Linked DNA regions of Homo sapiens: region 2 is linked to region 1. Evidence: fine-mapped expression QTL. A gene starts in region 1. The other region holds a variant in brackets. All regions are shown on one strand. Distances are between the middles of the regions. Region 1 holds the start of TP53I11 (tumor protein p53 inducible protein 11). Region 2 holds the start of LOC124902664 (a long non-coding RNA gene).

What was found. PIP is the estimated chance that this variant, and not a neighbour inherited with it, causes the effect.
Region 2: its variant is the best candidate, but not a certain one, in a credible set for the expression of TP53I11 in whole blood (INTERVAL, PIP 0.79).

Annotation. Positions count from the first base shown.
Region 1 is chr11:44,947,862-44,953,227 of GRCh38, reverse strand. It overlaps TP53I11 (tumor protein p53 inducible protein 11), which reads left to right and starts at 2,345. Exons shown (of 7, transcript NM_006034.5): 1 at 2,345-2,551. RefSeq lists silencers at 2,156-2,415, 2,446-2,575.
Region 2 is chr11:44,900,301-44,905,666 of GRCh38, reverse strand. All of the region lies in intron 3 of TSPAN18 (tetraspanin 18), which reads right to left. It overlaps LOC124902664 (a long non-coding RNA gene), which reads left to right and starts at 1,828. Exons shown (of 3, transcript XR_007062659.1): 1 at 1,828-1,887; 2 at 2,008-2,311; 3 at 4,349-4,529. The variant A/T (reference allele first, on the strand shown) is at 2,578.

The DNA.
Region 1 (5,366 bases):
GCTGTGAACTCTCCAAGGACAGGGACACTGTCCTGTTCACCCCTGGGGCCCCAGCACATAGCACCTTGCCTGGCATAAGGGTGAGGCACTGTCAGGATGGCCTCGTTCACAAAGGATGGTGGGGCAGCCTTGGCCCAGCCTGAGCTCCCAGCCTCCCCAGCTTCCCCGTTGATAAGGAGACTGAGAGAATACAGACACCCAGAGGGCAAAGGTTATCCACTCCAAATACCACTTAAGGTGGGAATTCTTCCTCTGCTGTCCTCATCAACCCTTCCCTGGATTCTGCTTGCATGCTGCTAGTGACAGGGCACTCATTCATGACAACTAAGGCAGCCTCTTCCATGTTGGAAAACTTGGAGTGATTGTGACAAAGGCCTCCCACTGATGTATGATCAGGCTGGCTGGGATTACAAGCACAGACCCTGCTGCTAGTCTTTAGGGTTACACCAAGCAGAGCACTGGCAGGTGTCCCCAAGTCTGGGAGGACATTGCACATGAATGACGCTGGGGGCCCTCCCTTCAGCAATCCAGAGCCCTGAGTGCCAGAAAGGCAGAAGAGGGAGTGACAAATGAATTCATCAACCCAGCTTGGCCCAGCTCTGTAAAGGCAGTGAGGTGAGACTGAGTTGTTGCAGAAATTACTATAGAGCCTTGAGTCAGATGGCTCCACCCAACACACCTTAAAAATAATCCTCATCTAGAGTCACATACTTTGATTGATTGATTGATTCATTCATTATTGGCTATCACTGTCTAGGTGTTTGGCTGGGGGCAGTGTCAGTGGCACTGGGGCATCAGAGTTTATCTACCTTAGTAATCAGGACAGTTTATATTCACTGAGCACTTACTATGAACCAAGGACTGTTCTGTTTACTTCCTTGCCAAGGGCACAGACTCTCCTGCCCAATCCCAGCTCTGGTGAGGACAGTGGGAGCCTGCATGGCACAGAGTCCATGCACAGTAAACATGAGCAGCTCCTATTAACTCTAAATCTCTACAGCAACCATAGCCGGTTCTTACTATTGGTTGCTCTAGGTGACTTACTTTGTCCAAGGCCACACAGGCACTAAAAGGCAGAGTCAGGATTTGAACCTAGGTGATCTGGTTCCAGAGCCTGCTCTATTAACCGTTAAGGAACTGGTGCAGACAGAACCGAGACCTGGAGTCAGAATGCCCACCTAGCTAGATGCCTGAGGCAGCCACTCACCTCTTTCTGTCTTATTTACTTGTGAAATGGAGCATGTCATCAGCCTTGCCTTCCTTTTCCCGCAGCCCCCCACCCCGGTTCCTGGCCCACTGTGACCATCAGATCAGATGAAAGAGATCCAGGCATTTCTCTAAGGAGAGCACAGGGTGGTGGGGGTTGGGGTGGGAGAGAGCACATTATTTTCCCACCATAAGGGGTTGAAGGAGCCCAGAATTTGGGGGTGGGGCCTTGTCTGTAGGAGCCTGGTTCTCTCAGGTTGACACGCCACCAGAGAGCCTCCATGACCCCCAACCCTCATCCTCACCCCAGCCCCCCATAGGATGTGTAGAGACAAAAGGTTTGACAACTGTAGCGCCAACAAGCGTCCTAGAGCCCCAGATAAGATCCTAGCCTCCTGACAGCGCAACTGACAGCAGCATCTCTGAGGCTGGATTTTAGGGTGGAGTATGAAGAAGGTGGCCGTAGTGACAGTGGGGTCATGTTATTTGGCCAAGTCACACCAAGCAGGGAGAGAGAAGGGTGGGCCTAGGCTGGAAGCCTGAAGGCTGAGTGAACTCAAACTTTAACGACCATGGCCTGTAAAATGGGACTAAGCACAGCGCCCTTATGGGTTGCTGTGAAAATCAAATGAGTTAATACTTGTAACTCCTTTAGCATATGGTGTCTGGCATCAGAGAGTGCGCAGCAAACGGTGACTATTGTCGTGACTGTGTTATTACACACTTGGGTATCACCGCCAGCCAAAGCAGTCCCTTCCATTTCAGGCACCGGCCTGGGCCCGGGAGACACCGCAAGGCTATTTAAGATGGTGTGGTTTGCCCATCTACGTTGATCGTCCCAAGAAAGGGGCACCGTCTGCAGAACTTGCCAGGAAAGTCATCCTGGGCGGCGCGGGCCACGCCAGGGTCTCCCCGCGCGGCTTCCTCCCCCGGCGCCTTCTCTCGGGCGCGCGTGCGCCCCCTGCAGGCGGCCCCCGGGAGAGCCTCGCGGGGGAGCCGGGAGCCTGGTTTCCCCGCCAACCCCCATCCCGCCCGCCCCGGCGGCCACCCTGGGGGCGAGGCAGCCCGGCGCGTGGGAGGGGACGGCGCGCCATTGGCTTGTGCGCGGAACCGAGAGGAGGGACCAGCGCGGGCCGCCAGACTCGGTAAGCCCCGGCCGCGCAGGGCGCCGCGCGCAGTCCAGCCGGCCCGGCCCTGCCCTGCCCTGCCCTGTCCTGCCCTGCCCTGCCCTGCCCTGCCCTGCACTGCCCGGCCCGGCACGGGCGGCGCGATGTGAGGCGTCCGAGCCCGGAGCCTCCGCCTGGCATCAGCTCCACGTAGCCCAGCGCCGGCACGCGCGAGGCCCGTAAGTTCTGCTCCCCGCCGCCGCTTCCGAGCCGCGGACTTTCCCCTCCCGCCGCCCGCCGCCTGCGCAGCGCAACCCAGCGGGGCTCCTGCGGCCGACGGGACCGCAGAGGGGCGGCCGGGACCCCGCGCGCGCTAACCGGGCGCCCCGGGACATCTCGGCACCCGCTGAGCCCGCTGGGACCCCAGGGGGTCGCCTCCCCAGCTCCCCAAGGCGCCGTCCCGCAGCCCCTTCCGTCTCCCCTGCGCGCTCTCCCCTCGCCGCCCCTCCCTCTGACTCGGTTTCCCCTCTCCCCCGGCTCCGCGGTCGCCCTCCTCCTGGACTGCTTATTTCGTCCTCGGCCACTGCCTCTCGGGCTCGAGCTTTCTGCTTCAGAGCAGGAGAGAAACGGAGCGAAAGCAGTTTCTGTCTCCCCGGGGTCTGACTCGGTCCCCCGCGCTCGGTTCTCTGTCCCCTCCCCCTCCCGCCATTGTTCCCGGCAGGAGGAGTGCGCGGCGCAAACTTGCGAGTTCCCCCAGTCTTTGCCCCCGCAGGGCCGCGGACGGAGGTGGTGGCGGAGTTCCCGCTGCCCACAAGTCTGGCCCGACCTTCTGGGGTGGGGGCCTGGGGGCAGGGGCCCTGGGCCGGAGAACCCGGGGCCGCCTAACGGCTCGGAGCTCACCGCCGGGGGACACCGGCGCTGAGGCCTGGGTCTCAGAAAGTGGGTGAGTGTCTGGAGCGGGGACATCAGGGACAGATTGCAGGGGGAGGGGCGAGGCTGAGAGAGTCCCCCGTCCCCAGGCTGGAAAGGGGCGGGCAGAAACCCAGGCCGCGCCTTAGCCCAGTTAGGGGGTGGGTAGGGGACGCACAGGTGGAGACGCCCCCCACTCTCCCCAAAGTCGCGCGATCTGCAGGAAGGGTACAGTGTGGGGCCACTGGCCGGGCGCTGGGTGGGTTAGGGCCCCTGCCGTGGGCAGAACACTCGCACCTACCCGGGGGAGGCTGTGTGGAGGAAGGGCCAGAACGCCGCGCCCACCCCGGCGCGCCCCGCTGGGCGGGGCGGGGCGGGGCGCTCGCCTTGGGTCCCCTCGCTCTACCTTCCTTCGCCCTGACCCAGTCTCGGGCTTCCGCCTCTTCCTGGAGCCCGGGGGGAGTGGGTTTCTCCGCCGGAGAGATGGAGGCTGGGGCAAGAGCAGCGCGGAGGCCAAGAACCCCCAGGCTCCTCCAAAGCCCAGAGCGGCTGGCCAAGGCCCCCTCACCGCCCCACTACCCTGCACTTCCTGATTGGTTTCTTTCAAACAAACTTCTTGACGGGGCGGGCCTGCGGGGAGAAGTCACCGGGGCTGCCCACCCCAACTATGTGGTCCCTTGGACCTCCACCCCTGACGGCCTGTGGAGAGGGGACCAGGATCTGCGGCCCGCAGATCCCAGGGACGCGGGGGTCGTTTTGTTGCAGAGCCAGGAGGGGGCACTGTCCGCTCCTTAGCCTCAGCCCCAGACTTCGAGAAAGGAGAGAAAAGATTTTTCTTGTTGGGTTGTTAGGAAATAAGACTATTCTCCAGGCTTCTGTTGTCCCATCTGTAAAATGGGTCGTCTTGTTCCTGAGGCCCCCTCTGTCCCCACCATCCCAGGAGGCCCCTGCCATGGCCGCTTCTTTCCCAGTCACATGTCGTCAACTTCCTCCGTGCTTCCAAATTTGGAGTGGAGGGCTAAGGCCGAAAGCCCCTTCACCCATGTCCAGCTGTCATGACCTGCCAGTTCTAGGACTGCGACCTATTTTCTGCACAGCTCTGCCTCCAGGCCCCTTGTGGCTTCTCCAGCTCACACCCAGCCTCCCAATTTCTTTTGATAGCCCCACCTCTGTGGGAAGAAGGGCCTGCCCCTCTTGGGGTATGGGGGAGGAGGGGGCTGGATTTAACAGGAATGCCCCATAGTCACACAGTTTGGGGCTGTTCTTTACTTTTGCTTATTGAACAAAATGTTTGTGAGCATTACACCAAAAATGGCTTATGGAGCAAAGTGCCAGGGACAGTTTCAGGCACTGGGGAGACAGCTGTGGACAAAATAAAAATTTTTGTCCTCATGGAGCTGATGCTTAAAAGCAGGGGGCAGGGGGAGGCAATTCCCTAATAAAAACAATAAGCAAATTATATAGTGTACTGAGAGGTGAAGGGGAAAAGTTGTGTTGGGGGTATTGAGGCCAGGGACCGGGTTGTCATTTTAAATAGGGTGTCAGGGAGGTCTCCCTGAGGAGGTAACTTTTGAGCTACAGCCTTGAGGGAGATGAGGGAGTGAGCTGTGTAGACAGCTAGAGCACAGCCCATGCAAAGGCCCTGAGGCTGGAATGTGCCTACCCTGCAGCTAGCAGGGAGTGAGGGGCTGAGGAAGAGTGAGTGACTGAGAAGGGATGAATTCCTCCCCTTTCACAGGTGAGGGAAGTGAGGCTCAGAGACAGTATGTCAGTCACCCCAGGACACACAGGCCAGGAGAGGCAGCTGCAGGGCGGGGTGCCTGATGTTCTGACTCCTGGTCCACGATACCTCCCCGGCACCCTGTGTCTCACTGTTTATCCTGCTACACTGGCTGGACCCCTCCCAGGGCCAGCGCAGCATCGTCCTCCTGCCCCAAAGTGACCCTTGCTCTCTCTCATCCCACTTCCTTCCTATGACCAGTCCCTTCTGAGCACCCAACTCTGACCTGGCACATGATCCCTAGAAGGGGACCTGCTCTGAGGCAGATTTGGTCAAGGGGGCAACTGAGGCAAGGAAGTAGAGTCTTCTAGTCTAAAAATAATGAGCAGCATTATTATTGAACATTAACTACAAAACAGGCGCTG
Region 2 (5,366 bases), 48 kb after region 1:
TTGCCAGGCACAGCCGGGGCTGCACTGAGATGCAAATGTCCCCCATCCCCCAGGGGAAACTGACAGCATCTGCTCTCATGAGTCAGACCTCAAGGTGCACAAGACATGTTTACATTCCATATTCGTTATTTTCACATTTTCTTCATAACGGCTCTGAGGAGAGACTCAGGGCAGGGATTAGAGATCCATGAGACAGGTGGGGAAACCGAGACTCAGAATGAAAACGACATGTCCGATGTCCCACAGCTAGTAAGGGGAAGGGCCAGAACTCAAGCCAGTCCTGAGCTGCCGGCACTGCAGGTGCTTCCAGCAGGGGGTTTGTACCTCCATGACAGGACTCAGTGCAAAGGGTTCTGGGAATATGTGTTGGGGTGTGGATGGATGTAGGGGAGATGGTGTCTGATTACTTTCTGCAGCTCCCGCTTCCTCCCACAGGACATGGCTGTACTCTATCTTCTTCTTCCACAAAATAAGGTTGCTAAGTCTGACTCAAAGGGTTTCTGGGAGGCTTATTATTAATATTAATAATAGTAAAATGTGTATCAAAGCATCACATTGGACTCCATAAACATATACAATTATTATTCATCAATTTAAAATGAAGTCAGGAAAACAGTAATAATCGTAGCCACTGTTTGGGGATCCAGCACTGTGCCCAGGGTTTTGCGCATATTATCTCGTTTAATCCTTGTAACCACCAAGGAGGTATGTACTCTGATGACCACACATCCTTCCATCAGCCCAGCCCTCAGAAGGGTTAAGGGATTTGTCCAAGGCCACACAGCTTGTAGGAAGCACTGACAAGGCCCATGGCACATAATAGGCCTCAGCAACTCTGTCCCCTCCTCGCCCTCGCCCAAAACCACAATCCAACACTCTCCTCAGCAGCCAGACCAGCACCCTCGTATCATAAGGAACAGATGGAGCAGAGCGGTGCCTGCCTCTCACCTGCTGGGCCACTCCACCCCTCTCCTAATCAGTGATGACAGCACCACTCCAGGCTGCATTTTGGTCTGAGCTAGAGGTGTTTTTGTTTGTTTGTTTGTTTGTTTTTAAGTGCATTTGAATCCATGGAGAGAGGAGCACAGACAGAGCCAGCTGGTGGGGAGTCGACACAGGAAAGGTTCCTGGTCTCAGGGGTGGTGCCTTGCGTCCCTCCTCTCGTTGTTTCTGCCAAGGTGCCAGATGTCTGTCCACCAGCTGAGCTTGGCCAGGCAGACATGGCTAAGGTGCCTGGAGCCCAAGAGGAAGGTCTGACAGGCACATCGGCTTTGGATTTGGCACTGGCCCTGGGGCCGGAGGGCTTTCCTCCCTAAAGGGACACCTCCTCCTTGCTGCTCTACTGGTCCCTATTGCAACTTGGAAAAATGCTGAGCAGGGGAGGCACAGGCGGGGCCACTCAGCATCAAAGTCAGGAGGGGAAGACACTCAGAGCCCACCTGGGACATCCTCCTTCTTCTCTTACTAGGAAGGGGAAACTGAGGCACCAAGTTACCTGGTGAGGAATGCAAGGGAAAAAATCATGGGGTGAACCTGACCCAGGGACTCCAGGCTCCAAGCCTTTGTCCTTCCAACAGTGCCCCAAGGGTTTCTCTTAAATTGTGTTGGGGTAATGGGAAATCAGGGTTTTCCTGAGATCATCCACCCAAGTCTCCACCCCTACAAATAATACTATTTATTGAGCATTTACTATGTGCCAGCTCCGTCCTGATACTTTACATTTACTAACTCATAACAACCCATGAGATTAATACTCTTATTATCCTTATTTTCCAGAGGTGGAAACTGAGTCAGACAGAGGCGAGGTGACTTGTCTGAGGTCACAGCTAGTGAGTGGTGAAGCCAAGATTGGAACCCAGGCAATCCAGCTTGGAAGGACAAAGGATGGTGTGTGTGTGATGGGGTGGGGGGCGGATTTGTCTTTACTTCAGTGAGCATGGCCTGAATTCAAGACATGCCATCTGCCTTTGGAGGTAAAATCGGATGACATCATCCTCTCTATCACAGGGGTCTCTGAAACATCTCCAGCCTCAGCCCTGCTCCTGGCCTTCTCTCTCATCCAGACATGGCTGCAGCCTCTGGGCTGGGACTGGCCTCCCTACCTCCCCTTCAATCCAGTGCTTCCCTGCTGCCAGAAGGAGCTTTCCAGAAAGCACATGTCACCACAGCCCTCTCTTGCTGGAACCCAACCTCTACAGGAGACCAAGCTGCCTCCTACAGACCACAGGACCTCCAAGACTCACCATCGCCACCTCTTGTTATTCCTGCCCTGACTTTCCTATCACCACCATCAAAGGAGAGTCCCCCAGAGGTATGTCCCTGACGCTTACTTGGTGCCTCTGCTCATGCTGATCCCTTCTGTTTGGATTGCCTTTCCAACTATGCCAGTCCCACTTAATTCCTATTCATCCTTTAAGACTCGTCACAGGCATCACCTCCGCCAGGAAGCCTTCCCTGATTCCCCCCTCCTGCCCCCATCAAGCCAAGCTCAGTGCCTTCCCCTAGTATAATATCCCACGGCTTCTGCTGACATCTACCACTGCCCCCACCAAAATATATACCATAACATCATCAGCC[A/T]GCGTTCCTGGTGAATCCCAGAGGAGCAGAGTCGTGGCTGTGCCCTCCTGGGACACAGTAGGGTTGCACTTGGTTTGGACTGAGTAAAACCCTCCACATAGGGAGTGTTAATTCAGCAGTGTGAAGGAAGCCTGGTGCTGGGCTAAGGCATGCTTCCAGTCATTCGTATCCTCCTCGCCTCCAACAGCTAGAAAGTGGAGCAACAAGGATTCAAACCCACAGTCGTGTTCTCCTGTGCTCCGTTTCCTCTCTCTGTTGTACCCTCTCCTGGGTGAGGACAGCCCAGGACAGGCCCCCCTAATGCCCCGCTTGCTCACCCTTCTCTCCTCAGGTCTTCCTGAGGCCTGAAAGCCTAGAGCTGCCTGCTTTGGTGCCTGCCTGGGATGGGAGGCACCAGGACAACCTATCCCTTCCTTTTCTCCAGGCCCTGCCCTCCCAGAGGGCAGTGGGCAGGGCTGAGATTCAGTGGGGACCCATAGGGATGGCTGTCCTGCTGTCTGGCCAGCATCTCTTCTGGTTGGTTCATGCCAGTGCATACTGGCTGTTAAGCATCTCAACCATCATCACTGACTGTGGGGCCTTTGGCTCTTCCTTCGTCACCAAGCCCAGGCTCTCTTCCTACAGAACGGTCCCCCAGGATACCATTTCCAGGCCAGCTTGCCAGCTACATCCCTCACATCATCCCTGACTTTCTAGAAGGAACATCTAACCTGCATCCAACCAGCATGGTCCTAAGCATGGGCTCTGAAGTCAGACACAACTGGGTTCGAATCCCAGCCCATCACCTTTTCTACCTCTGTGTCTTTGGGCAAGTGACTTAGCCTCTTGGAACTTCAGTTTCTTCACCTATAAAAACATCCAGTGTAAAGGGCTCCCCGCTGTACCTGCACAGAGCAGGATGGACAGCTCTTATCACGTCTACACCTAACTCTGCCTTCATAGGTTACTCATAGGCCTGCTGTTCCCTGTTAGACCATAAACCCAGGACAATGCCTTGCACCCCGGAGCTTTCTATTCTGACCCATCTCTCCTTTCAGCTCTTGGCTGACTTCAGCTCCGTGCATCTTCAGTCACCCTGTGCCCTTTGGAAAGGGAAAAGAGGATAGGAAAGAACATTTATTGAGCACTGACTCATGGCCAGTCACATGCCAACTCCGCAGAACTGACTGCCTTTAATCTCTCAACAAGCCCCTAAAGCAGGACGTACTATGCCCATTTTACAGAAGAGGACACTGAAGCTCAGAGGGGTCAAGTAACCTGGCCAGTATCACACAGCTTGTATGCACAGACTGGGCTTCAAAAACACCACTCACCCAACTCCACATCCTGTGCTCTACCTGATCCAGGAGCAGATGTTCAAGCAGAGAGTTGGGCACAAGGAGCACTGGCCTAGGAGTCTGGAGCCCAGGCTTCTGCTCTGTAAGTCACTGTTGTGTGACCTTGGGCAAATCACTTTCTGTCTCTGGCCTCAGTGCCTTCTTGTGTCAAATGGCAGAGCAGGAATCTGATGGCCTGACTGTTTCCTCTGCCAGGCCCTGACTTGGATGAATGGGCCTTTGGAGGCAGAGCAGCCACAACAGCGAGAGGCTGAGTAGTCCTGTGCAGGAGGCCAGGCTCTGCCATCCCTCCCTCTGCCCACCCAGGCAGAGCTTCTCTCCAGGGTAGGATCCAGCTTCAGCCGGCTCTGGCTCTTTAGCAATTAAGGGGTGTAATAAATATGGCAGCTCATAAACGGACTACCTGTATTTATTGTGTACCACATTCATTGCAGATTACATCTCATGGCCCGGGCTTGCGGAGTGCTGGGCTCCCAGACAAATGCAATCAAAGGAGACATGTCTCCTGGGAAGAGCCTCCCACAACCTCAAAGGTGAGTCAGGTAGGAAAATAGATGATGTGAGCCTGGGGGCCGGTGAAGAATATGGAGGCCCGGGTTCCAGTTTCAGAGCAGGGTGGATGAGTAAAAAGAGGGCTTTGGTGCCCAACAGGGGATTGTGTCCCAGCTCTGCCAAGCTTAGCTGGTGGGGCAAGTTACTAAACTGCATACAACTGAATTCCTTCTCTGTAAAGTCAGGATAAAAACAATGCCTTCCTCGGCCGGGCGCGGTGGCTCACGCTTGTAATCCCAGCACTTTGGGAGGCTGAGGCGGGCAGATCACCTGAGGTCAGGAGTTTGAGACCAACTTGGCCAACATGGCAAAACCCTGTCTCTACTAAAAATAACAAAAATTAGCTGGGGGTGGTGGCAGGAACCTGTAATCCCAGCAACTCGGGAGGCTGAGGCAGGAGAATTGCTTGAACCCAGGAGGAAGAGGTGGCAGTGAGCCGAGATCATGCCATTGCACTCAGCCTGGGCAACAAGAGTGAAATTCCATCTCAAAAAAAAAAAAAAAAAAAAAAAAAAAAAAAGCCTTCCTCAAGTTGTATGGAAAATACTGAGCACAGGGCTTGGCACATGGTAGCTAATAATAGTAACCACTGGCATACACTGAGTTCTTACTATGTGCCAGGGAACACACACAATTTCATTGAATCCTTGTAAAGCTCTGGGAAGTAGGTAATGTCATTCTATTTTTCAGAGGAGGGAACTGAGGCTCGGAGAGGTGGAATCACTTGTCTAAGGTCACACAGTACAGAAGTGCCTGAGCCAGAATTTGAACCCACGCCTGTCTTAATCTGGGGCCACAACTCCTAATCAGCATTCTCAATGAATGAGAATTCCCTTGCCCCATTCATCCATCCTCCTCCAAAGTGCAGACCTGTCTTCACACCACCTATGCCATTTGATC